7 linked regions of the Homo sapiens genome follow. The protein of the gene in region 5 purifies or fractionates together with the protein of the main gene of each other region. This does not show direct contact. Each region holds a gene or a part of one and is shown on either strand. Other genes may lie near its edges.

The links.
Region 1: the proteins of FADS3 (region 5) and LRRC8A purify together in Homo sapiens (co-immunoprecipitation; 3 studies listed by BioGRID and IntAct, with this or other methods). This does not show direct contact.
Region 2: the proteins of FADS3 (region 5) and NAGPA purify together in Homo sapiens (affinity purification with mass spectrometry; 2 studies listed by BioGRID and IntAct, with this or other methods). This does not show direct contact.
Region 3: the proteins of FADS3 (region 5) and FNDC3A purify together in Homo sapiens (affinity purification with mass spectrometry; 2 studies listed by BioGRID and IntAct, with this or other methods). This does not show direct contact.
Region 4: the proteins of FADS3 (region 5) and ALG13 purify together in Homo sapiens (affinity purification with mass spectrometry; one large-scale study listed by BioGRID and IntAct). This does not show direct contact.
Region 6: the proteins of FADS3 (region 5) and CLPTM1 purify together in Homo sapiens (co-immunoprecipitation; one large-scale study listed by IntAct). This does not show direct contact.
Region 7: the proteins of FADS3 (region 5) and ERICH5 purify together in Homo sapiens (affinity purification with mass spectrometry; 2 studies listed by BioGRID and IntAct, with this or other methods). This does not show direct contact.

What each region holds. Positions count from the first base shown.
Region 1 is NC_000009.12:128,888,633-128,892,132, reverse strand, and holds part of LRRC8A (volume-regulated anion channel subunit LRRC8A), read right to left. Parts: intron 67-3,500; exon of another isoform or gene 1-66. UniProt on the Homo sapiens protein: Essential component of the volume-regulated anion channel (VRAC, also named VSOAC channel), an anion channel required to maintain a constant cell volume in response to extracellular or intracellular osmotic changes.
Region 2 is NC_000016.10:5,027,640-5,030,935, reverse strand, and holds part of NAGPA (N-acetylglucosamine-1-phosphodiester alpha-N-acetylglucosaminidase precursor), read left to right. Parts: intron 1-442; coding exon 443-551; intron 552-1,927; coding exon 1,928-2,056; intron 2,057-2,750; coding exon 2,751-2,956; intron 2,957-3,042; coding exon 3,043-3,090; intron 3,091-3,296. UniProt on the Homo sapiens protein: Catalyzes the second step in the formation of the mannose 6-phosphate targeting signal on lysosomal enzyme oligosaccharides by removing GlcNAc residues from GlcNAc-alpha-P-mannose moieties, which are formed in the first step.
Region 3 is NC_000013.11:49,202,912-49,206,411, reverse strand, and holds part of FNDC3A (fibronectin type-III domain-containing protein 3A), read right to left. Parts: intron 3,256-3,500; coding exon 3,128-3,255; intron 1-3,127. UniProt on the Homo sapiens protein: Mediates spermatid-Sertoli adhesion during spermatogenesis.
Region 4 is NC_000023.11:111,754,170-111,757,659, reverse strand, and holds part of ALG13 (UDP-N-acetylglucosamine transferase subunit ALG13), read right to left. Parts: intron 73-3,490; coding exon 1-72. UniProt on the Homo sapiens protein: Catalytic subunit of the UDP-N-acetylglucosamine transferase complex that operates in the biosynthetic pathway of dolichol-linked oligosaccharides, the glycan precursors employed in protein asparagine (N)-glycosylation.
Region 5 is NC_000011.10:61,878,046-61,881,545, forward strand, and holds part of FADS3 (fatty acid desaturase 3), read right to left. Parts: intron 2,107-3,500; coding exon 1,996-2,106; intron 1,465-1,995; coding exon 1,267-1,464; intron 803-1,266; coding exon 701-802; intron 590-700; coding exon 467-589; intron 234-466; exon of another isoform or gene 171-233; coding exon 110-170; intron 1-109. UniProt on the Homo sapiens protein: Mammals have different sphingoid bases that differ in their length and/or pattern of desaturation and hydroxyl groups.
Region 6 is NC_000019.10:44,961,880-44,965,379, reverse strand, and holds part of CLPTM1 (putative lipid scramblase CLPTM1), read right to left. Parts: intron 3,418-3,500; coding exon 3,305-3,417; intron 1-3,304. UniProt on the Homo sapiens protein: Involved in GABAergic but not glutamatergic transmission. Binds and traps GABAA receptors in the endoplasmic reticulum (ER).
Region 7 is NC_000008.11:98,071,068-98,074,567, reverse strand, and holds part of ERICH5 (glutamate-rich protein 5), read right to left. Parts: intron 1-3,500.

The sequences.
Region 1 (3,500 bases), on a different chromosome or scaffold from region 5:
CTTCACCTCGCTGGGCTCTGGTTTCCTCATCTGTAAAATGGGTTGACAAGTCTATTGCTTGGAGGGCTGTGATGAGGACAGAAGGAGACAGTCCATATAAAGCTTTTGGACTAGTGCCTGCCATACAGTAAGGCTCTGGAACGTTCACTGCTGTTATTATTATGGTAGAGTTTAAATCAGTCCTTTTATGGGTGTGATGTCGGAGGCCCAGAGAAGTTTGGTAACCTGCCCAAGGCCACACAGCTAGGAAGAGCTGGGAAGATGCACCCCAAGCCCGACTTTCCATTGTGCCAACCTGCCTCAAAGACAAGCAGGCCTCCCGGACCCACCTGGGACCCAGGCCCTTGAAGATACTTCTTGAGACAAGATACTCTTTTCCTTAGGGGGTACATGGAAACCAGGGCTCTACAGGGAACCCCATCAGGCCATACTCAGATGCCTCTGGTCTCACGGGTACTGCTATAAGGAAGCTCTGGAAGGGAGCCTAGCCCTGGGTTTAGGGCCAGAAGGCAGTGTTGGGTCTGGGCCCTGGGGGCAGAAGGGCCTAGAAGGCAGGCCGTTTTATTTTTTTTGAGACAGGATCTTGCGCTGTCGCCGAGGCTGGAGCACAATGGTGCGATCATGACTCACTGCAACTTTGAACTCCTTGGCTCAAGCGATCCTCCAGCCTCAGCCTCCGAGTAGCTGAAACTACAGGCATGTGCCACCACACCTGGCTATTTTTAAAAATTTTTTGTAGAGATAGGTTGTTATGTTGCCCAGGCTGGTCTGGAACTCCTGGGTTCAAGCAGTCCTCCAGTCTCAACCTCTAAGTAGCTGGAACTACATGCACATGCCACCACACCTGGCTAATTTTTTTTTTTAGACGGGATCTCACTCTGTCACCAGGCTAAAGTGCAGTGGCACAATCTCGGCTCACTGCAACCTTCGCCTCCCGGGTTCAAGTGATTCTCCTGCCTCAGCCTCCCAAGTAGCTGGGATTACAGGTGCATGTCACCATACCCGGCTGATTTTTGTATTTTTTAGTAGAAACGGGGTTTCACCATGTTGGCCAGGCTGGTCTTGAACTCCTGACCTCAGGTGATCCACCTGCCTCAGCCTCCCAAAGTGCTGAGCCACTGTGCCTGGACTAATTTTTTTTTTATTTTTGTAGAGACAGGTCACTATGTTGCCCAGGCTGGTCTGGAACTCCTGGGCTCAAGCAATCCTCCACCTCAGCCTCCCAAAGTGCTGGGATTACTGGTGGGAACCGCCACGTCCAGCCAACGTTTGTTGGCTCATATTTGCACATGGAGTCACGGCCACACACGGTTTACAGGTCTTAACCTGTTATGAATACCAGCGCTGCCTTCTTAGACAGGTTATGAAATGTGGCCACCAGTACCCTAGAGAGGCAGCAGACACATCTTCTGCTGAGATCCCAGGGGAGTGGGCACTGGCCAAGCCCTAGGTGAGCCAGGGGGAGGACTGGGGGGTCTGACAGAGGGTGAGCTGCCTGGTACCCGACTCTCTGGGATGGAAGGGGGCTACCCCCAGGGATCCTGACTCATGGAGTCAGCTGGGAGATGCGAGGTGTCCCTTCAGGGCCAGGATTCCCGCCCACCGCCCCCGCTGCTGGTCAGTGCGTTTGTCATGCTGCCCGTCAGAGGGCGCAGGTTTGGCAGTGGCACTCTGACGGCGTCCAGGTGGCACGTGAAAGCTATGGAATTTTACAGCCACTTTTACTCCACTGGAACATTGCTCTAGGCGTGAGGCTTAGATTGCAGCAAGCAATTTAATTTTGAGGTTTTAAGCCCTCAAGAGACGTTTAGATGTAGACAAACTTGCTGCAAGACGCAAGACGCAACAGAAACGCATCTGGAAGACAGCAGGGAACATTTGTGGCTGGGAGTAAAAGCCCTTCTAGAAACCTCAGCCCCACACGTCCTTGAGGAGGGAAGGTTAAGCCCCTCGCCTTCCCAGCACACACACACACACACACACACACACACACACACACACAAAATGAAGCCACTAAAAAACAACTGTCTGGCCAGGTGCGGTGGCTCACACCTGTAATCCCAGCACTTTGGGAGGCCGAGGTGGGTGGATCACCTGAGGTCAGGAGTTCGAGACCAGCCTGACCAACAAGGTGAAACCCCGTCTCTACTAAAAATACAAAAATTAGCCAGGCGTGGTGGTGCACATCTGTAATCCCAGCTACTTGGGAGGCTGAGACAGGAGAATCACTTGAACCCAGGAGGCAGAGGCTGCAATGAGCCAAGATGGCACCATTGCACTCCAGTCTGGGCAACAGAGCAGGATTCCATCTCAAAAAAGTAAAATTAAATTAAAAAAATTGGCCAGGCGCAGTGGCTCACGGCTGTAGTCCTGGAACTTTGGAGAACAAGGTGGGTGGATCACAAGGTCAGGAGATCGAGACCAGCCATGGCCAATATGGTGACACCCCGTCTCTACTAAAAATACAAAAATTAGCTGGGCATGGTGGCGGGCACCTGTAGTCCCAGCTACTCGGGAGGCTGAGGCAGGAGAATAGCTTGAACCTGGGAGGTGGAGGTTGCAGTGAGCAAGATTGTGCCACTGCACTCCAGCCTGGGTGACAGAGCAACACTCCATCTCAAAATAATTAATTAATTAATTAAACAAAAAAAAAAAAACCTGTCCAGTCCCAGTCCTGTGGGGAGCTCAGCCCTGCTTCCACACCAAGGGCATGAGTTCTGCGGTAGACGACTGGGACTAAGGCTGAAAGAATGGCGTCCGGTCAGTGTTTCTCAGCATTGTTTGTAGCCCACCAGCCTCACAACTGCTGGGGAAGCATCTTCAAAGTTCAGATTCCTGGGGCCAACCTTCCAGGGCAGACTCTGCAGGTCTGTGGTGGTGGGCCCAGGGGAACAGCATTTTAGACAAGCTTCCAGGTGACTTTGAAGGCCCCCAAAAGCCTGGGAACCTGAGAAAAGAGGGTAATGGAGGGTGAAGTAGAAAGAGCCCCAGCTGCCAAGCCATACCAACCTGGGTTCAAGTCCTAGCTTTGCCACATGTACACTGTATAACTTTGGGCCAGAGACCTCATCCCTCTGGGGCTTGGTCTGTAAAATGGTAAAGCAACCTCACACGCAAGGCTGTGGCGAAGGTAAGATGGGCAAATGCGTGCAGCATCCCAGCCTGTGGCTCAGCACTGAGACATGGTGCTGAGAATGACCACGGACTATGAAGGTGCTACTGCAGGAAGGAGAAGCCAGAGACGCTGAGCACCATCTGTGGAGGGGCCAGCTCTGCAGCTCTCTCCCAAGCAGTGTATGGGAGAGAAAAGAGACTCCTGGGGAAGAATGGAGGAAGTGACGTGGGGGAGGGAAAGCGACAGGACAGTGAGCCTGAAAAACACAGGTGAGATGTCAGGAGCTCTGGCACAGACCTCACTCCCAGCGCGATCCTGCCAGACGCTCTCGCAGCCCCGCAAAACGAGGCTGCCACGCCTGTATGCTCTCCTTGCCCAAACCCTT
Region 2 (3,296 bases), on a different chromosome or scaffold from region 5:
AAAGAGTGGGCGGTCAAGGAAGGCCTCACTAAGGAGGTGATCTGACAAAGGAGCAAGCTAGAGAAAAGCACAGTTCCCAGCCAGAGGGAACAGGAAGTGCAAAGTGGCTGCAGGGTGGTGAGGGGACACCCAGGAGCTGAGGCAGGAGGAGGAAGAGGCTGGGGAGGGCATGCTGGCTCTTTGGATTTTGTTCTAAGAACAGGGGAAACCATTAGAGGGTCTTCACCTGGAGGCTGGCATAGCTTGGTTTACCTGTAAGAAGAGACCCCCCGGCTGCCCTGGGGAGACTGGGATGTGCAGAGGGGAGGCAGGGAGACGAGCAAGGAGGCTGCTGTGCTTCCCAGGGAGGTACCAGGTAGCTCAGACCAGTGGGAAGTGGAGTTAGGCAAGAAGCAGGAGGCCTCCCAAGGGGCGGTGATCAGCCAGGCTGCTTTTCCTTCAGGTTCCTTTAGCAAATTTGTGAATGTGATATCAGCCAGGACGGCCATTGGCCACGACCGGAAAGGGCAGCTGGTGCTCTTTCATGCAGACGGCCAAACGGAGCAGCGTGGGTGAGTCCTGGGAGCTGAGGCCCCCCGGCCGGGGCTCAGTCCTGCTAGGAGGAACGTTGACCCAATGACAGCCACCCTCTGACTCTACCTGCTTTCTGGGATGTTGACACCTATCTGTCCCCCCTCCCAGGGCCCCCTCACCTTCCCACAGGATGAGGGTTCTGAGATCTTTGCCGATTCCAAGAACTCATCATCTTCAGCTTTAGGCCTCACCTTTCCTGAACCCTAGATAGGATACAAGGAAATGGTCACAAAGTGAGCAGGGAGAAGATCTTGGTTCCAATCCCAGCTTAGCCATCGATGACTTGTCTACCCACCTATGCCGTAGACAAGTCCCTCGGCCTCCCTGAGCCTCATTTCTAGCCCCTGTAAAGAGAGTGTTTTGGTTTGCTCTGGTTGCATAACCAGCACAAATTTAGCAACACTCAGCAGGGAATGTTCTTTTGTTTGTTTGTTTCTTTGAGACAGGGTCTTACTCCGTCGCCCAGGCCAGAGTGCAGTGGTGCAATCTCAGCTCACTGCAACCTCTACCTCTCAGGTTCAGGTGATCCTCCCACCTTAGCCTCCCAGGTAACTGGGATTACGGGCACCCGCCACCACACCCAGCTAATTTTTGTATTTTTAGTAGAGATGGGGTTTCATCATGTTGGCCAGGCTGGTCTCGAACTCCTGACCTCAGGTGATCCATCTACCTCGGCCTTCCAAAGTGCTGGAATTAACAGGCGTGAGTCACCGCACCTGGCTAATTTTTGTATTTTTAGTAGACACAGGGTTTCATCATGTTGGCCAGGCTGGTCAACTTGGAATGTTCTATGTTCAGGGTGTCCCATGGACAAAACCAAGATGCTGGTTAGGCAGGGCTCTTCTCTTATCTGGAAAGAATCCTCTTGTTTAGGTTGTTGGAAGAATCCCCGTCGCCTCCTCAGTTGTGACTGAGGTCTTGGTTTCCCTGCTGGCCGCCATCTGGGGCCTCAGCTCCTTCAAGCTGCCCAGGTTCCTTCCCATGTGTGTCCTCTCCCCCAGTTGTCCGGCCACCCTCTCATCCCCCTCGTATTTCAAATCTCACTTCCTATTCTGTCACCAGCCAGAGAAGGCTCTCTGTGTTGAACACTCCTGTGATTCCAGTGGCTGCACCCAGATCCTCCGGGCCGTTTCCCCTCCCTTAAGGATTCCTATGCCATGTAACAGCACAGGCATGGGTGTGATCTCACGTGTTCACAGCTTCCGGGGGCTAGGATGAGACATGCTTGGGGGCGGGGGCCACTTAGAAATGTGCCTGCACTGTGGGCGTGATGCTCTGCACTGTGGAAGGAAAAGGAGTTAAATGAGAAATGATGGTGGGCGCTGAGCCTGAGCAGCGCCGCTTTGTGCCGCAGCATCAACCTGTGGGAAATGGCGGAGTTCCTGCTGAAACAGGACGTGGTCAACGCCATCAACCTGGATGGGGGTGGCTCTGCCACCTTTGTGCTCAACGGGACCTTGGCCAGTTACCCGTCAGATCACTGGTAAGCACGTGAGAGCCGCCTTCGTGAGGGCTGAAGTCCAGGTCTGCCCCAGCCTGTCTCATTCAGCCAATATTGAGTGCCTGCTATGTGCCAGGCCCCGGGGGTTCAAGAGAGCAGAAATTGCTGCAGTCCCTCCCCCAGGATGCCAGTACTACCCAGGCCTAGGAGCAGGGTCAGTTGGTCAGCAAAGACCTCCCTGAGGATGACAGAATAAGAACTGAGATCTGAAGGAGGTGGTAGCTGGGTGGGGGTGGGAGAGCCTTCCGGGCAGAGGGCACCACATGTGAAAGGCCCAGGGCTGGGAGGGATTGTAGGGAGCGGAGGAACCTATAAAAGACTGGAGAGGGCTGGGCACAGGGGCTCACGCCTGGAATCCCAGTGCTTTGGGAGGCCGAGGTGGGAGGTTCGCTTGGGCCCAGGAGTTTAAGACCAGTGTGGGCAACATAGACCCTGTCTTTATGAAAAAATAAAAAAAAATTAGGCAGGCGTGATGGTGCACACCTTACGGTTACAGCTGCTCAGGAGGCTCGGGTGGAAGGATCGCAATACCTCATCTCAAAAATAGATAGACGCCATCTTGTAGGTAGGTAGGTAGACAGGTGAGAATGGAGAGAGGGGTGGTTGGGGGCAGCCTGGAGGGAGTTGAGGGGCCGTCTGGGGGTGTCCTCTCCTCACACATCACATCCCTCTACAGCCAGGACAACATGTGGCGCTGTCCCCGCCAAGTGTCCACCGTGGTGTGTGTGCACGAACCCCGCTGCCAGCCGCCTGACTGCCACGGCCACGGGACCTGCGTGGACGGGCACTGCCAATGCACCGGGCACTTCTGGCGGGGTCCCGGCTGTGATGAGCTGGACTGTGGCCCCTCTAACTGCAGCCAGCACGGACTGTGCACGGAGAGTGAGTGGGGGTTCTGGGGAGGGGGCTCTGCCCAGCCCTGCCTTGCCCTAGGCCCTCACCTGGCCTCCCCGGTCTTGTCTCGGCAGCCGGCTGCCGCTGTGATGCCGGATGGACCGGGTCCAACTGCAGTGAAGGTAGGAGCTGCCACGCCACTAGCGGATGGGGAGACGGTGGCCCCCGGCAGCCCCCACTGCTCCTCTGCTGCTTCTGTCTCCACCTTCTGGTCTGGGAAATGCTTGCCTCTTGTCTTCTGCCCCGGCCTCACCTGCACATCACTGTGTGACTCCCCTGTGGCTGCTGCGGCCCGTTCCACAAAGGGCTCGGCTAAAACAAGGGTCCC
Region 3 (3,500 bases), on a different chromosome or scaffold from region 5:
AACCTTGATCAGTGAGATATAAATAACTACCACAAGCTTAGTGTTCCAATAATGGAACACTAGGCATAAATAAGAAGCTATATACTAGAACTGTTCACCCCTGGCATCCAAGGTCTGCTCTACCACTTCACACTCCAGATGTGATTTTAGACCAACTACCTTAGTATAACAGACATACTAGTAGTTAACATGTATGATAATTATGAGGATGAAATGAACTAATGCTTGTTAAAGCACTTAGCGCAGTGCTCAGCATGCAGTCACTGCTCAATCTGTAGGAGCTATCATTTCCAATAATGAGCAACCTCCCACCACTCATTCTGTAATTGAGAAAACCAAGGTTCATAGGGTTAAATGACTTGTCAGTTGAGTTTCTCCAGTTAGTTGGTGGGCTACAAGTCAGAAGAACCAACACATGGGGGCTTTCAAGTACTTTTAGCTGCCTCAATTGTACCTGTGATGTAAATCTAAATTTTTACATATTGCTTTGCTCTCAAAGTAAAGTAAGATCTCTGTCTCATTTTTCTGTCTCCAGAATCTAGCATATAGTAGGTACTTAATAAAAGGACATTAAATTAGTGAATTATTGGCAATAAATAAAAATGTGGATGCTGATAACAATATATAAAGGAACTTACTGAAAGAAGCTTTAAGATAAATCTGAAAGAAAATGGTGACTATACATTAGTTCTAAGGATGCATAATGTTTCAGGGAATAGAATGTAGAAATGATCCATGTTTGGGAGATGGTACAGGTTGGGTATCCCTTATAAGAAATGCTTGGAACCAGAAGCATTTCAATTTTTTTGATTTTGGAATAGTTGCATATTTACTAGTTGAGCATTCCAAACCCAAAAATCTGAAATTGGAAATGCTCCAATGAGCATTTCCTTTGAGTGTCATATCGATCCTCAAAAAGTTTCAGATTTTGGGTGGAACATTTTGAATTTTGGACTTTATTTGGGATGCTTCAACCTGTAAAAGGATTCACTTAAAACAGAATGTTGTATGATAAAGTAGTGTAAAATTGTATACATAACACTGAAGTAAATTGAGTAAAAATTAAAAATATGTATTTGTCTTATGGATATAATAGATGATTTTTGTCTTTATACTTTCCATGTGTCTTCATATACCATTCCATGAGCCTGGCAGTATTAGGTTAAGAAAGAAAAACCTCAACAAATGGCATGAGGGTGATAAGAGATCTGGTACAAAGAGGAAGAATACATTAATTACACTAGTTGGAAATTTAGGTTAATTCAAAAGGGACCACTGTAGGTGTGTGACATTAAAACAGTGTTTATGGAATCCTAATCGTGAGGCTGTGTGAAGGACTGAAGGGAGCTGAGTAGGACAGGGACTCTTGATGTACATGTAAAAAGTGATGAGGCCCTGATGTAGTTTTATGGATTTAGAAACAAATTCTGATTAAGAGTTGATAGGAAAAAAAAATTCATCTAAGAATTTAAAGCTTGGAGACCAAGATGATATTGGTGTCTATGACACTGATGAAGTAAAGATGTTGGAGAGGAGATACTGGGAGGGAAGATGATGGGATCAAGTTTTCAATTTTGTATTTCAGATGTGGGAAGACCTCTAAGCAGGAAGAGACACAGGTAACTGTAAATACAGGACTGAAGAAAACAGATTAACCTGCTCAAGCTAATTTCAGAAGGTTTATACACCCAAGAAAAGTCATTCAAACAAGCCTTAAGGTTATTCATATACTACTCAAATGTGGAATCCCTATTTCCTTTAAACGTGTAATACAATTATATTTTCTTTAATATTAATTTTGCTTCCTCCTTAGAAGGAAACCTACTTATCTGTAAATTACATTTCAAATCTAATTATCCTGTCAATTTGCAGATGGCTTAATAAAGAAAAACAATTGCATGCCAGATTTAATCTGACTCTTTGGATCTTTTGTAATTTCAGTTAAGATATTACATAGAGTGGTTACAATAGCACAATACTGGAATAAAACAAATGAAGGATCTTTTTTTTAGTGGAAGAGGAAAATATAAGACACAATGAAAACAACCCAGCTTAAAAGCCCTCAAAATTAAGGTTACAGGAAAAAGGGAAAATCAGGTGAAATGTATAGGTATTTAATTAGTCTTTGGAGTGGTATAAAAGCTTATTCTTTTTAAAAGTTGTAACAAACATTGGCAACACTCCACTCTATCTCACTGCTATTCTTGCTTTATCAGAAAGCTATCTTTGAAACCTCTTGGCTAGGAAGGTGACAATTCCTCTAGGTTTCCATTATAACTTCATGCCTAATGTCATATTTACAGCACTGCATTATGACTATTATTAATACTATTATTGTAAAAGCCTCCTTATTAGTCTTTCTAGTTCTGCCCTTGTCCTACTGTAGTTTCAACACTATAGTCAAAACAACGTTGTGTCTGATCACGTGAATACCCTGGTCAAAATCCTCCACTGTCTTCTCATTTCACGTGGAGTAAAAGCCACAGTATGGCCTATTATGCCTTACGTCACTCCATACCACCTATAGGCCCCTTAGGATTAACTATCCGACCTTATCAACTCTTCCCTTTGCTCTCTCCATCCAGTCATATTGGCTCCTTTATGTTCATCAGATTTAATAGGCATGTTCCTGCCTCAGCGTATCTTCTTGGAACACTCTTCTCTCCATAGTCATCTCCTCTGGGCCATGCTGAAATGTCAGCTGAGTGCCCCAAATGAAATAACACTCAGTGCCCTCCCCCTCCACTCCCTATTTCTTTTATCCAATTTTGTTTTTTCTCCATTACACTTATATCTGACAATATATTGTCATGTTTACTTGCTTATAGTGTCTTCTTTTCCACCAGAATGTAAGTAAGCTCCATGGAGGCAAGGGACTTTTTGTTCAGTGCTATATCCTGAGTGCCTGGCACAGAATTCAATGAATACTTATCAGATAAATGAATAATCTGTTCAAGTGTAGTTCATACTGAAAAGATTTGGAATCTTGAGATCTCTGGAACATAATATATACTGAATAAATATTTATGAATTAAAAGGTAAAGATGGCCAAATCTTACACTGAAAATACATAAAAATTAAAAAAGGGTAAAAATATGCATCCACACATTAATATCTTGGTACATACCTGTTTGAATTCTGAATCTTTTCCCAACATAACTTGAAGACTGTAAATAACTGGATCACCTTTCATTGGCTGTAAACACTCCCATGTAATTTCACAAATGTGATCATTTACTTTCTCTATTTTGGGGGCTGTAGGAAACAAATATAAATAATATCTGTTCCACTTGATTTTTAATTTGGTACATCATGCAGACACTTGTCTTAATAAAAATCAACAAATATTTAAAATCCACTTATAAACTTGAAATAAGTATCAGTGAATTTTTGAAATTTGCATCCAAAGAGGTTAAAATCAGCACTCTTGTATTCTAAGATATGGGATCTCACTCTGTCACCCAGCCTGGACAACAGTGGTGCGATCATAGCTCAATGCA
Region 4 (3,490 bases), on a different chromosome or scaffold from region 5:
ATTCTCTACATGAAGCTGCTGCTGCATCTGTGGCACATAGACCATGGAGTGCCAGTAGCTGTGGTAATAGCACTTGAGCAAGAAAGGGCAACAAAAAAATAAGAAACTTCACTCTTCTCTATTCTTAATGTAATACAGTTCCCCACAGACAAAAAAAAAAAAAAAATAAGAATTGGGCCACGATTTTCAGGTGAGGTAGCAATGACTTTTTTGACCTAAAAACTTGACAGTCTGTTCTCTATTAGAACTTTAGGATCTTTTGCAGCATTTGTATCTCATATTTAAACCTAAGAATTCTTTTAGGAAATAATCTAAAAGACCTGTATACAAAGGTGTCTTTTATAGTATTTTTAAAAGCAAAAAACATTGCACATAGTATTTAACAACAGGGAACTGGATAAATTATATACCCGTAATGAAATACTATACAGGCAACGAAAATCATGCTGTCAAATATTTAAAGAAAAAATGCTTGTATTGTTAAAAGATTTAAAAATTATACAGCATAATCCATAGTTTGTAAAATACAAAATTGTAAGAAAATATATAAAGTATACAGTGATCATAGAGGTGATTTTAGTTTTCTTTATACCACAGTATTTTCAAAATGTACTACAATGGACACTATGATTTCTAATAAGAAAAATACTGAAATATCTATTCAGCATCTCCTGGTATTCTATGATGTAAAAGGCAGAATATTTTTAAATGCCTCAGTGAAATAGATTACAAAGTTTCCACATGTGACTATAATAAACTAACATAACAGAAGGGGCAAGCGGTTTATCAATTCTTGAAACTAAATTTAGGAAAAATAGTCTCAAAGAACAAAAACCCACCCCATTACTCTTAATTTATAGATGTGTACTATTTGGGAAGACAGTTTTCTTGGCACTGACATGTCTAAAGCTTCAGGGAAATCAGTGTCAGGGAATATGAACTAATCTGAGCATTATCCAGGAGAGCACAGAGTTTATCATCATCTGACAGATCTTAAGATGCATTATTCCTTTCAGTAAATATGCCATCTTGTTACATTTTAAGTCAAGTGTATTTCAGAGGGAAAGTGATCCCTGAAAGACTAAAATAAAAGAGCTCTCACCTCAACTCGGAGACACCTTTCACTGATAAAGACATTTGTCAGTACCCACCTGCCTCTACAACTCAGGGGAGTGGTGAAAAAACAGTGTTGAGCAAGCATCTATGAACACATGAGTGCTTTAAAAATGCAGCTATTTTTATTTTTATATTTATTACACAAGTTTTGGGATACACATGCAGAACATGCAGGTTTGTTACATGGGTATACATGTGCCATGGTGGTTTTCTACACCCATCAATCTGTCACCTACATTAGGTATTTGTCCTAATGCTCTCCCTCCCTTTGCCCCCAACCCCGCGACAGGCCCCAATGTGTGATGTTCACCTCCCTGTGCCCGTATGTTCTCACTGTTCAACTCCCACTTATGAGTGAGAACATGCGGTGTTTGGTTTTCTGTCCTTGTGATAGTTTGCTGAGAATGGTTGCCAGCTTCATCCATGTCCCTACAAAGGACATGAACTCATTCTTTTTTATGGCTGCATAGTATTCCATGGTGTGTATGTGCCACATTTTCTTTATGCAGTCTATCATTGATGGGTATGTGAGTTGGTTCCAAGTCTTTGGCATTGTGAATAGTGCTGCAGTAAACATACATGTGCATGTGTCTTTATAAAATGATTTATAATCCTTTGGGTATATACCCAGTAATGGGATTGCTAAATCAAATTGTATTCCTCATTCTAGATCCTTGAGGAATTACCACACTGTCTTCCACAATGGTTGAACTAATTTACACTCCAACCAACAGTGTAAAAGTGTTCCTATTTCTCCACATCCTCTCCAGCATCTGTTGTTTCCTGACTTTTTAATGATTGCCATTCTAACTGGCATGAGATGGTATCTCATTGTGCTTTTGATTTGCATTTCTCTAATGACCAGTGATGAGTTCTTCCTGTTTGTTGGCCACATAAATGTCTTCTTTTGAAAAGTGTCTGTTCATATTCTTTGCCCACTTTTTGATGGGGTTGTTTATTTCTTGTAAATTTAAGTTCCTTGTAGATTCTGGATATTAGCCCTTTGTCAGATGGATAGATTGCAAAACTTTTCTCCCATTCTGTAGGTTGCCTGTTCACACTGATAGGTTCTTTTTCTGTGCAGAAGCTCTTTAGTTTAATTAGATCCCACTTGTCAATTTTAGTTTTGCTTTTGTTGCCATTGCTTTTGGTGTTTTAGTCATGAAGTTTTTGCCCATGTCTATGTCCTGAATGGTAATGCCTAGGTTTTCTTCTAGGGTTTTTATGGTTTTAGGTCTTACATTTAAGTCTTTAATCCATCTTGAGTTAATTTTTGTATAAGATGTAAGGAATGGGTCCAGTTTCAGTTTTCTGCATATGGCTAGCCAGTTTTCCCAGCACCATTTATTAAATAGGGAATCCTTTCCCCATTCCTTGTTTTTGTCAGGTTTGCCAAAGATCAGATGGTTGTAGATGTGTGGTGTTATTTCTGAGTCCTCTGTTCTGTTCTATTGGTCCTATTGGTCTATATACCTGTTTTGGTACCAGTACCATGCTGTTTTGGTTACTGTGGCCTTGTAAAATAGTTTGAAGTCAGATAGCACGATGCCTCCAGCTTTGTTCTTTTTGCTTGGGATTGTCTTGGCTATATGGACTCTTTTTTGGTTCCATATGAAATTTAAAGTAGTTTTTTCTAATTCTGTGAAGGAAGTCAATGGTAGCTTGATGGGAATAACATTGAATCTATAAATTACTTTGGGCAGTATGGCCATTTTCATGATATTGATTTTTCCTATCCATAAGCATGGAACGTTTTTCCCTTTGTGTCCTCTCTTATATCATTGAGCAGTGATTTGTAGTTCTCCTTGAAGAGGTCCTTCACATCCCTTGTAAGTTGGATTCCTAGGTATTTTATTCTCTTTGTAGCAATTGTGAATGGGAATTCACTCATGGTTTGGCTATTATTGGTGTATAGACATGCTTGTGATTTTTGCACACTGATTTTGTGTTGCACACAACTTCAACTTTGCTGAAGTTGCTTATCAGCTTAAGGAGCTTTTGGGCTGAGACAATGGGGTTTTTAAAATATACAGTTATGTCATCTGCAAACAAAGACAAAGTGACTTCCTGTCTTCCTATTCGTATACCCTTTCTTTCTTTCTTTCTCTTACCTGACTGCCCTGGCCAGAACTTCCTATACTATGCTGAATAGGAGTGGTGAGAGAGGACATCCTTGTCTTGTACCGGTTTTCAAAGGGAATGCTTCCAGCTTTTGCCCATTCAGTATGATATTGGCTGTGGGTTTGTCATAAATAGCTCTTATTAATTTGAGATACATTCCATCAATACCTAGTTTATAGAGAGTTTTTAGCATGAAGGGGTGCTGAATTTTATAGAAGGCCTTTTCTGCATCTATTGAGATAATCATGTGGTT
Region 5 (3,500 bases):
TGACAGACGTGCCCCGCCCCAGGAAGTGGCTGGGAGTGGTCCAGGACAGCAGGGAGGACAGTGCAGGCCCAGGCACTCCCCCACCCCAGAAGGACAGATGGACACTCACTCAGGAAGAAGTACAGGTGCTGCTGGTTGTAGGGTAGGTATCTGCGTTTCTTCTTGCCATACTGTGGAGACAGGCGGCGGCTGGAGACAGCAGCTCTCCAGGCCACCTCCTTCTCCCGGGCAAGGTCACGGGGCTGGCTGGGGCCAAGGGTCAAAGGCAACTCTAGATTCTAGCAAGCGGGCTGGTCGTCCCCAGCAGGTTGGGAGGTGGGAAGGAAAGACACGGGGGCAGAGCTTGGCCCAGCCAGAGTGGAGGCCAGATCAGGGGCTAGGTCAGGGGCAGAGTGGGGACCCAGTGCATTAGCTCCCCCTCAGCTGCAGGCCCAGCCAGAGGTTGTCCACGTCCCTCCCCACCCACCTCGACGGATGACTCCCCCAGGAGGAAGACGGGCGCCACCGTCACGTCTGGGTCTTTGTGGAAGATGTTGGGCTTGGCGTGGTGCTGGAAGTGGCGGAAGTTCCACCAGTGGGCGGAGAAGCCCTGTGGAGGAGGAGGGGGCTCTCAGGGCAGGCTGTGCCCCCGACTGTGCCCACACACTTGGGCAGACCCAGCGCCACCCAGCACCTGGCTGACCACCCACCCCACCCTCACCTTTAGCTGCCCCATCACGAACTTCTGGGCCACGTGGTTCCACCAGGACTTCTTGAAGATGGAGGCATGGCCCAGGTCATGCTGCAGACACCAGGACTGAGCCTGGGGAGAGAGGCAGGGTCAGAAGCTGTTGGGAAGGACGGAGCCCGCCAGGGCCTGGGGCCCCAGTGAATCCTTTCAGCTTGCAGGGTACCCCCGTGCTAATGCTCCATTTCAAGACCCTTGTGGGCCAGTGTCCTCTTTTTACAGATGAGAACTGAGTCCCAGGGAGGTGGAGGGGCTCGTAAGTGTCATGAAGCTGCAGGGCAGCAGCCTCTGGCTCAGTGGCCCTGTGCTTGATCGGAATCTGTTCAAGAAGGAACTTCTTGGCTCATCTGGAATGCAGCTTGACCCACAGACATGCCTGATGGGCCTTCAGACTGTTCACTCATTCATCTGTTTATTCATCCATTCATCCTTTCATAGGTCCATTCATTCATTTAGCAAATATGTTCACAATGCCCAGATGCATGGGGGCCCACGTCTGTTGGGCAGTTAAGGTGGCTGCAACACAGAACTGGGGTCACCTGAGAGATGGCCAGGATGAAGGCGGCCAGGGCACTGGGCACCCAGCCAGGACCCAGGAGGTAGATAAGGAGCCAGGCCAGCACCTCCATGGCCAGGATGTGGCCCAGTAGGAAAGCAAAGAAGGTGGGACTGGCATCAAACAGCTTCATGTCCTCGGCTGCCTGGTGCAGGGCTCGGAAGTCCTCGACCAGCTGCGCCTGCCATAGCAGAGGGGCCGATCAGCCAAGGAAGAAATTCCTCCCCACCCCCATTCTCCTGGAGCCCCAGCCGCTCCTCCCATCGCCAGGCCCAAGGGGTGTGGGCAAAGAGGAATGAAGTGACAAGAGTACCCAGCCCGGGGTGTGAGCTGGAGCACTGGCTGGTGGTGAAGCCTCCTCTCCCTCCCAAAAGGTATGGGGTGGGTAAGACGCTACAGCCAGGAGAGAAATCAGTTCATCAAAATCCTCCTTTTGATGGGGACACTGGGCGACAACAGGGAGGGAGCTTGCCTCGGGATCCAAACGGGTGCCTGGCTAAACCAGATCTGGAGCCCTGGACTTCTCAGGGCATCCCTACAGCTTCACTTTCAACTGCCTGCCCCCTGGGAGGGGAGGGCAGGCTCAGCCCTGGCTCTGCATCCCCTTGGGCGAATGCCGAGGGAGCTGCTCCTGGCCATGTGGCAATGTCTCCCAGCCCTCCAGCCATCCCCCTCCCTCAGGGGCTGAGCCTCTCCTAGGGCTCTGGCTCACATTCAGGGGTCCATCCTGGCTGGGTTCTTCCGGAGCCAGCTCTCCAATCAACAGGGGCTGTAGGAACTTGCGCACAAAATTGAGATCTTGATGGAAGGCACGGAAGGCATCCTGAAGGAGAGCAGACAGTCAGGCGGACAGACAGACACAGCTGAGTAGCACAGCGGCAACCAGCAGAGACAGGCGGAAGGACTACGGATGGATGGGCAGAGCAGACGACAGGCGGACAGGAAGTCAGCCGGCTGATGAACAGTCAAAGACATGGGCCCTCCCTGGTCCTCCCAGGGCCCCAGGTTGTCCTGCTTTTCACCCATTGCCTGCTGTGCCCCATCCACTTCACCCAGCACAAGGGCCCCTCTCTGAACACGGTCAAACATCTGCAGCTCTGGATTTACAGAAAGACCTCCCGGGAAGACTTTGATTTCTTGAACCACGAAAAAAGGTTCTGCTTTTCCAAAAAGCTTAAGTCATACAAGTTTCCACTGCATGTAGAATAAGATCTGGGTCACGAACATTTGATTTACCCCGTTTTTATAAACATAAGCAGTGGGTGAAGGGTAGGTGGGAAAACCTGGAACTGAGGACCACTGGGTCACGGGGCGGGGGGATCAGTCAAGGGCGACACACATTGAGTCCTTGGGGGTTTGCAAGGAAGACACTTGAACAGTTAAACTGATTTGACTTACAAAGCAGGAAGCAGGAGCACAAAACATAATTTTTTTTTTTTTTGAGACAGTCTTGCTCTGTTGCCCAGGCTGGCATGCAATGGCATGATCTCAGTTCATTGCAACCTCTACCTCCTGGGTTCAAGCAATTCTCCGGTCTCAGCCTCCGGAGTAGCTGGTCTCAAACTCCTGACCCCAGGTGGCCAAGCTGGTCTTTAACTCCTGACCTCAGTTGATCTGCCCACCTTGGCCTCCCAAAGTGCTGGAATTATAGGTGTGAGCCACCGCGCCCAGCCTAATTTTTTTTTTAAAGTAAATAAAATGGGCCAGGCATGGTGGCTCACATCTGTAATCCCAGCACTGTAAGAGGCCAAGGCACGAGGATTGCTTGAGGCCAGGAGTTCAAGACCAGCCTGGGCCACATAGTGAGACCTTGTCTCTATTTTTACAAAAAAGAAAACATCATAAATAAAATGAATAATCCAACATTCTCGCGATTCTGTGTAATAGCTGGAGTGGGGGTGGAGTACGATGCAGGAGAAGGAAGAAAGAGTAAAGAAAGGGGGTGAGAAGAGAAGACAGACCAGGAGAAAGATAAGGGCCAGGGAAAGAGACCAGCCAGGAAGTGGCCCAGAAGTAAAGTAAGCTTGAACTTCACACCTGGGCTCACTTAGCCTTCCAGGTCTGCCTGTGGTCTTGGTATTGTAATCGGCTCACTAATTGTTCACAGCTCTTGGACTGATTTTTTTCCTTGTACTTTCAGAGGCTTTCTCTGAATGGGCTAGCCAGAGCCATACAGCAGCTTATAGAACCAGTAGCTGGGTGGTGTTGTCCCCATGG
Region 6 (3,500 bases), on a different chromosome or scaffold from region 5:
ACTACAGGCTTGTGCCACCACACCCAGCTAATTTTTGTATTTTTAGTAGAGATGGGGTTTCACCATATTGGCCAGGATGGTCTCGATCTCTTGACCTCATGATCTGCCTGCCTCGGTCTCCCAAAGTGCTGGGATTGCAGGCGTGAGCCACCGCACCTGGCGGGATGATTGTTGTAAACATCTCTGCTGTGCAATTCCTTCTATCTCATAAGTAGGGAAGCTGATTGCCTAACTGCATGGTGTGGTCTCTTATTTTGCTAAAATACATCTCCAAAAAGCAAAAAAAAAATAAAAGGAATATCTATTTTGCAGAGGAGTAAACAAAGGCTCAGAGCAAAGAAGGTGACTGTCACTAGGTCTAGGCAGGAAGGATAGAACCCAGTGCCAAGCATATTCCCCCGCCACCACCCAGCATCTCCCCAGGGCCTCAAACAGAAGCTGGGCTTTGAAAAAACAGGCCCTGGGGTCCCACTGCCCAGGAATAGCATGTGAACCCACAGGTAAAAGGGTCACCACCAGGCAGTCACAGAAGGACAAATGCTGTCTGATTCCACATACAGGAGCTAACTAGAGTAGTGAAAGAGAGACAGGAAATAGAAAAGTGGCTGCCAGGTGTTGCAAGGAGGAAGAAATGGGAAGCTTGTGTCTGATGGGTATGGAATTTCAGTTTGGGAAGAGTAAATTCTCGGGATGGATAATGGTGATGGGGGCACAACAGTGGAGATGTACTTAATGCCACAGGACTACATACTTAAAAATGGTTAAAATGGGCCAAGCGTGGTGGCTCACGCCTATAATCCCAGGACTTTAGGAGGCTGAGGCGGGTGGATCACCTGAGGTCAGGAGTTAGAGACCAGCCTGGCCAACACGGCAAAACCCCATCTCCACTAAAAATACAAAAATTAGCCAGGCGTGGTGGCAGGTGCCTGTAGTCCCAGCTACTCAGGTGGCTGAGGCAGGAGAATCGCTTGAACCCAGGAGGCAGAGACTGCAGTGAGCCGAGATTGCACTACTGCACTCCAGCCTGGGTGACAAAGTGAGACGCTGTCTCAAAAAAAAAAAAAAAAAAAAAAAAAAAAAAGGTTAAAATGAAAACATAGGTTAAAATGGTAAATTTGATGTTATGTGCAGATGTGGGCTGAATCATGTCTCCCAAAATTCATATGTTAAAGTCTCAACCTTCAGTACCACCGTGACTAGATTTAGAGACAGGGTCCCCCCAACTTTTTTTTGCGATAAGGTCTCACTCTGATGCCCAGACTGGAGTACAGTGGTGTGATCTCGGCTCACTGCAGCTTCAACTTCTGAGGGTCAGGCAGGGCCCAGTGGCTCACGCCTGTAATCCCAGCACTTTGGGAGGCTGAGGCGGGTGGATCATGAGGTCAGGAGTTCGAGACCAGCCTGGTCAACATAGTGAAACCCCATCTCTAATAAAAAAAAAAAAAAGCAAAAATTAGCTAGGCACTGGGTGCAGTGGCTCACGCCTGTAATCCCAACACTTTGGGAGGCCAAGGCGGGCAGATTGCCTGAGGTTGGGAGTTCGAGACCAGCCTGACCAACATGGAGAAACCCCATCTCTACTAAAAATACAAAATTAGCTGGGCATGGTGGCACATACCTTAATTCCAGCTGCTCAGGAGGCTGAGGCAGGAGAATCGCTTGAACCCAGGAGGTGGAGGTTGCAGTGAGCTGAGATCGCGCCACTGTACTCCAGCCTGGGAAACAGAGCGAGACTCCATTACAAAAATAAAAATAGGCTGGGTGCGGTGGCTCACACCTGTAATCGCAGCACTTTGGGAGGCCAAGGCAGGCGGATCATGAGGTCAGGAGATAGAGACCATCCTGGCTAACACGGTGAAACCCCATCTCTACTGAAAATACAAAAAATTAGCCAGGTGTGGTGGCGGGTGCCTGTAGTCCCAGCTACTCGGGAGGCTGAGGCAGGAGAATGGCGTGAACCCGGGAGGCGGAGCTTGCAGTGAGCCAAGATTGTGCCACTGCACTCCAGCCTGGGCGACAGAGCGAGACTCCGTCTCAAAAAAAAAAAAAAATACATAAAATAAAAATAAAAAAATTTCCAAGGCTCAAGTGATCCTCCTACCTCAGCCTCTTGAATAGCTGAGACTACAGGTACGTGTCACCATACCTGGCTTTTTTTTTTTTTTTTTTTTTGAGATGGAGTCTCACTCTGTCCCCAGGCTGGAATGCAGTGGCACGATCTCAGCTCACCGCAACCTCTGCCTCCTGGGTTCAAACGATTCTCCTGCCCTCAGCCTCCTGAGTAGCTGGGACTACAGGCACGTGCCACCACACCCAGCTAATTTTTGTATTTTTTTTGTATTTTTTATTTTTTTTGAGACGGAGTCTTTCTCTGTTGCCCAGGCTGGAGTGCAGTAGCGCGATCTCAGCTCTCTGCAAGCTCCGCCTCCCGGGTTCACGCCATTCTCCTGTCTCAGCCTCCGGAATTTTTTTATTTTTAGTAGAGATGGGGTATCACTATGTTGGCCAGGATGGTCTCGATCTCTTGACCTCGTGATCCACCCGCCTCGGCCTCCCAAAGTGCTGGGATTGTAGGTGTAAGCCACCGTGCCCAGCCAGATTTTTTTATTTTTAGTAGAGACAGGGTCTTACTATGTTGCCCAGGCTGGTCTCAAACTCCTGGGCTCAAGCAGTCCTTCCAACCTGGCCTCCCAAAATGCTGGGATTATGAGGGTGAGTCATTGTGCCTGGCCCAGATAGGGTCTGTAAAAAAGTAAGGTTCAGTGAGGTCATTATGGTGGGTACTAAGCCAGTATGACTAGTGTCCCCATAAGAGGAGCTTAGGACACAGACACACACAGAGGAAAGACCACATGAAGACACAGGGAGAAGACGGCCTTCTGCAAGCCCAGGAGAGAAGCCACAGAAGAAACTGCCCCTGCCCACAGCTGGATCCTGGACTTCCAGCCTTCAGAACTGTAAGACAATGAATTTCCTATTTCAGTTGTTTAAGCTACTCCGTCTATATTACTTGATACAAGGGCCCTAGCAAACTACTTCAGTATTTTTTGTGTTTTTATTTTTTCACAAATCAGGTAGCCCCCCAAAAACCAGAACAGGTTCAGGGAGACTCCCTACTTCAGTATGTTTTACCAGAGTAAAAAAAAGGTTTAGAAAACATTCCATCATACAAAAAAAAAAAGAAAAAAAGCAACTCTACCATACAGTAATGATCACCATCCTCAGCTGATCAGCTGACTTTTCCTTTCTTCCTTATTTTTATTTGAATGTTTTCGGTGAACAAACCCAAGTCCCGTCTGCTCACCTAAACAGCACACCTTTGATGACCTGCCAGGCATTGGGTGCCGGCTGGGCCGGTGGGTTCTGAGGCTGGGTCTCCGCTGGCGGGTCCCTCCCGATGCTGCCATTGCTGGTCACCTGTGGGGGACAGAGGCCAGGGTAAGGAGGGAGAATGGACACGGGGGCTGTCTTAGACACCATCATGCATGAAGGCCAGGCAC
Region 7 (3,500 bases), on a different chromosome or scaffold from region 5:
TATTAGCTGGGTATGGTGGTGCACAGCTGTAGTCTCAGCTACTCGGGAGGCAGAGGCAGGAGGATCACTTGAATCCAGGAAGTTGAGGCTGTACTCAGCCTGGGTGACAGAGTGAGACCCTGTCTCAAAAAAAAAAAAAAAGTAAATTAAAATGAAAAATAAAAAAATTATAGAAGCAAAAATATAAGAGCAAGTAATCTAGCTAAATAAGAAGACCTGGTAGCCTTAGAAAAACTGTCTCATAAACTGTAGCCATTCGCATACCACTTTTATGATTTTTGAATATTTCTTTACCATTTGTGCTATTATTGACTTAATATTTTTGTCACCATTTTTCTTTAAATAAATTTACTTTTTTAAAAAGTGAGGAAGGCCAGGTGAGGTGGCTCACACCTATAATCCCAGCACTTTGGGAGGCTGAGGCAGGCGGATACCTTGAGTCCAGCAATTAGGGACGAGGTTGGGCAACATGGCAAAATGTCAACTCTCCAAAAAACAAAAAAAAATTAGCCAGGTGTGGTGGTGCATGCCTATAGTCCCAGCTGCTGGGCTAAGGTGGGAGGTCGAGGCTTCAGTGAGTTGTGATAGCGCCACTGCATTCCAGCCTGGGTGACAGAGTGAGACCCTGTCTCTAAAAAAAAAAAAAGAAAAAGAGAGAAAAATTTAAAAAGTGAGGAAATCAACAAACTCAGGGATCTAGAACTTGATTTTAAACAAACACAAAAAGCTGGGTGCAGTGGCTCACACCTGTAATCCCAACACTTTGGGAGGCCGAGGTGGGTGGATCACCTGAGGTCAGGAGTTCGAGGCCAGCCTGACCAACATGGTAAAACCCTGTCTCTACTAAATATACAAAAATTAGCCGGGCATGGTGGCACCCGTCTGTAATCCCAGCTACTCCGGACGGTGATGCAGGAGAATCACTTGAACCCGGGAGAAGGAGGTTGCAGTAAGCCAAGATCACAGCACTGCACTCCAGCCTGGGCGACACAGCAAAACTCTGCCTCAAAAAAAAAAAAATTATATATATATATATATATATATATATATACATATATATATATATATATATATATATATACATATATATATATATATATATATATACATATATATATATATATATATATATATAGAGAGAGAGAGAGAGAGAGAGAGAGAGAGGGTCTCACTATGTTGGTTAGGCTGGTCTTGAACTCCTGGCCTAAAGAGCAAGCTTCCTGCCTCAGTCTCCCAAAGTGCTGGGATTACAGGCATGAGTCACCGTTCCTGGCCCAGACTATATTCTCAGTGCATTATATGTATTAACTTATTTATTCCTCAACTCTATGAAGTACTATTGTTGATCCTATTTTGTAGATGAAGCAGCATGGAGAGGGTCAGTACCTGGCTCAAAGTCACACAACTAATAACTGATCCTGAACGAGGATTTGAACCCAGTCTAACTCCAGGCCCACATTCTTAATCAGCACTCTATACTGTCTTTCAGTTGAAATGAAATGTTGAACTTCATACCCATACATTAATGCAAGGTGTACAGGTAACCAGAACCTCCCATAACATCTAGTCTACAGGTGCTATACCTTTAGATTAAGTACTAAGTAAAGGAAATTAGCAAAAAAGAAACTCTGTGGTTTATATCAGAGTCTTGAGAAAATGGGAAGAGGCAGAAACAGGCACACACACAAAAATCACCTTACAGAAAAAAAATAAAAGACAAAAGGTTCATTATAATTATCATTAACAGTGAGGAAAAGAAATAAGCAAAGAGAATGTTTTAGGGAGAACATTTCAACAAAAGTCCTTGCTGGGGTGGCTGAAGGCAGATGTTATCTCTAAGCAAAAGAAACTACTAGTGAAAATGACAGAGCAGCTGGAATGCACATCCCAACACTTCCTTTTTAATTTTAATTTTAATTTAATTTTTTTTTAGATGGAGTCTCACTCTGTCACCCAGGCTGCAGTGCAGTGGCACAACCTCGGTTCACTGCAACCTCTACCTCCCAGGTTCAAGTGATTTTCCCGCCTCAGCCTCCTGAGTAGCTGGGACAACAAGCGTGTGCCACCATGCCTAGCTAATTTATTTTGTATTTTTAGTAGAGATGGGGTTTCACCATGTTGGCCAAGCTGGTCTCCAACTCCTGACCTCAGGTGATCCTCCTGCCTTGGCCTCCCAAAGTGCTGTGCTCACAGGCATGAGCCACTGCACCCGGCCACCAACACTTCCTGATCCTTTTCAATGTCATGACATACACAGAATATGATATTTGTGCATCACACTTCAACAAATGGAGGAAGCTGCTTCCAGATGGCTCAGGCTGTCAGGATCCCACCTGGCTGCCCTAAAGGCTAGGAGAAATGCTGGCATGGCTATAAACCATTCTCACAGGCTGGGAAACTCTGATATAAACAACTTAGGTAGTACTAAATCATGCACTCCAGCATTGACTGTCTTATTTCACCCACCTTCATAAGGTTTAATTCCTAGGGGGTTTTAGCTGCTAAAAACCATGTGGGGCTGGGCACGGTAGTTCATGCCTGTAATCCCAGCACTTTGGGAGGCTGACTGAGGTATTAGGGTTGCTTGAAGCCTGGAGTTTGAGACCAGCCTGGGCAGCATAGTGAGAACCAGTCTCTACCAAAAAAAAAAAATAAAATAAAACTTAAAAAATAAAATAAAAACAATGTGGATTGTTGTTTTTTTCAATATTCATCCTTAAAGGACAAAGCTCAGACACCCTTGATTATATACAATGAATGAACTTGAGAGCCCGAAGGCAATTCCCAAGAAGTGGTTCAAGGACTGTGAAAAACAGCAATAGCCCTGAGATGGGTGAAGAAGCTTCTGAAGTCATTACAGGACTTTCAAGACATAAACACACCTGGAGAGCTATAGTCTGGCACTTTGCTTTAAAAAAAAATTACAGTGGGGCACAGTGGGTCATGCCTGTAATCCCAGCACCTTAGGAGGCTGAGGTGGAAGGATAATTTGGGTCCAGGAGTCCAAGCTGCCGTGAGCTATGATTGCACCATTGCACTCCAGCCTCGGCAACAGAGCAAGACCCTGTCTCTAAAAAAGAAAAAAAAATTACCTAGTACTACTCACACACACTCTAGGATTAGAAGCCTCATCAAGTTTTTATCAGCTTTGGTGAGACTTTCATTAACCCCCACACGTATTCAGGGTTTCTTTCAACTTGATATTGTAAAACATTAACATAGAAGTGAAACTGTACACATGAGCTGGTTGTGGGGCCACCTTACAGAAGCATGATTTTTTCTTTTTTTTTGAGAGGGAGTTTTGCTCTTGTCACCCAAGCTGGAGTGCAATGGCGTGATCTCTGCCCACTGCAACCTCCACCTCCCAGGTTCAAGAAATTCGCCTGCCTCGGCTTCCCGAGTAGCTGGGATTACGGGTCCTAGCTACCACCAGCTGCCACCACGTCCAGAAAATTTTTGTATTTTTAGTAGAGACGGGGTTTCACCATGTTGGCCAGGCT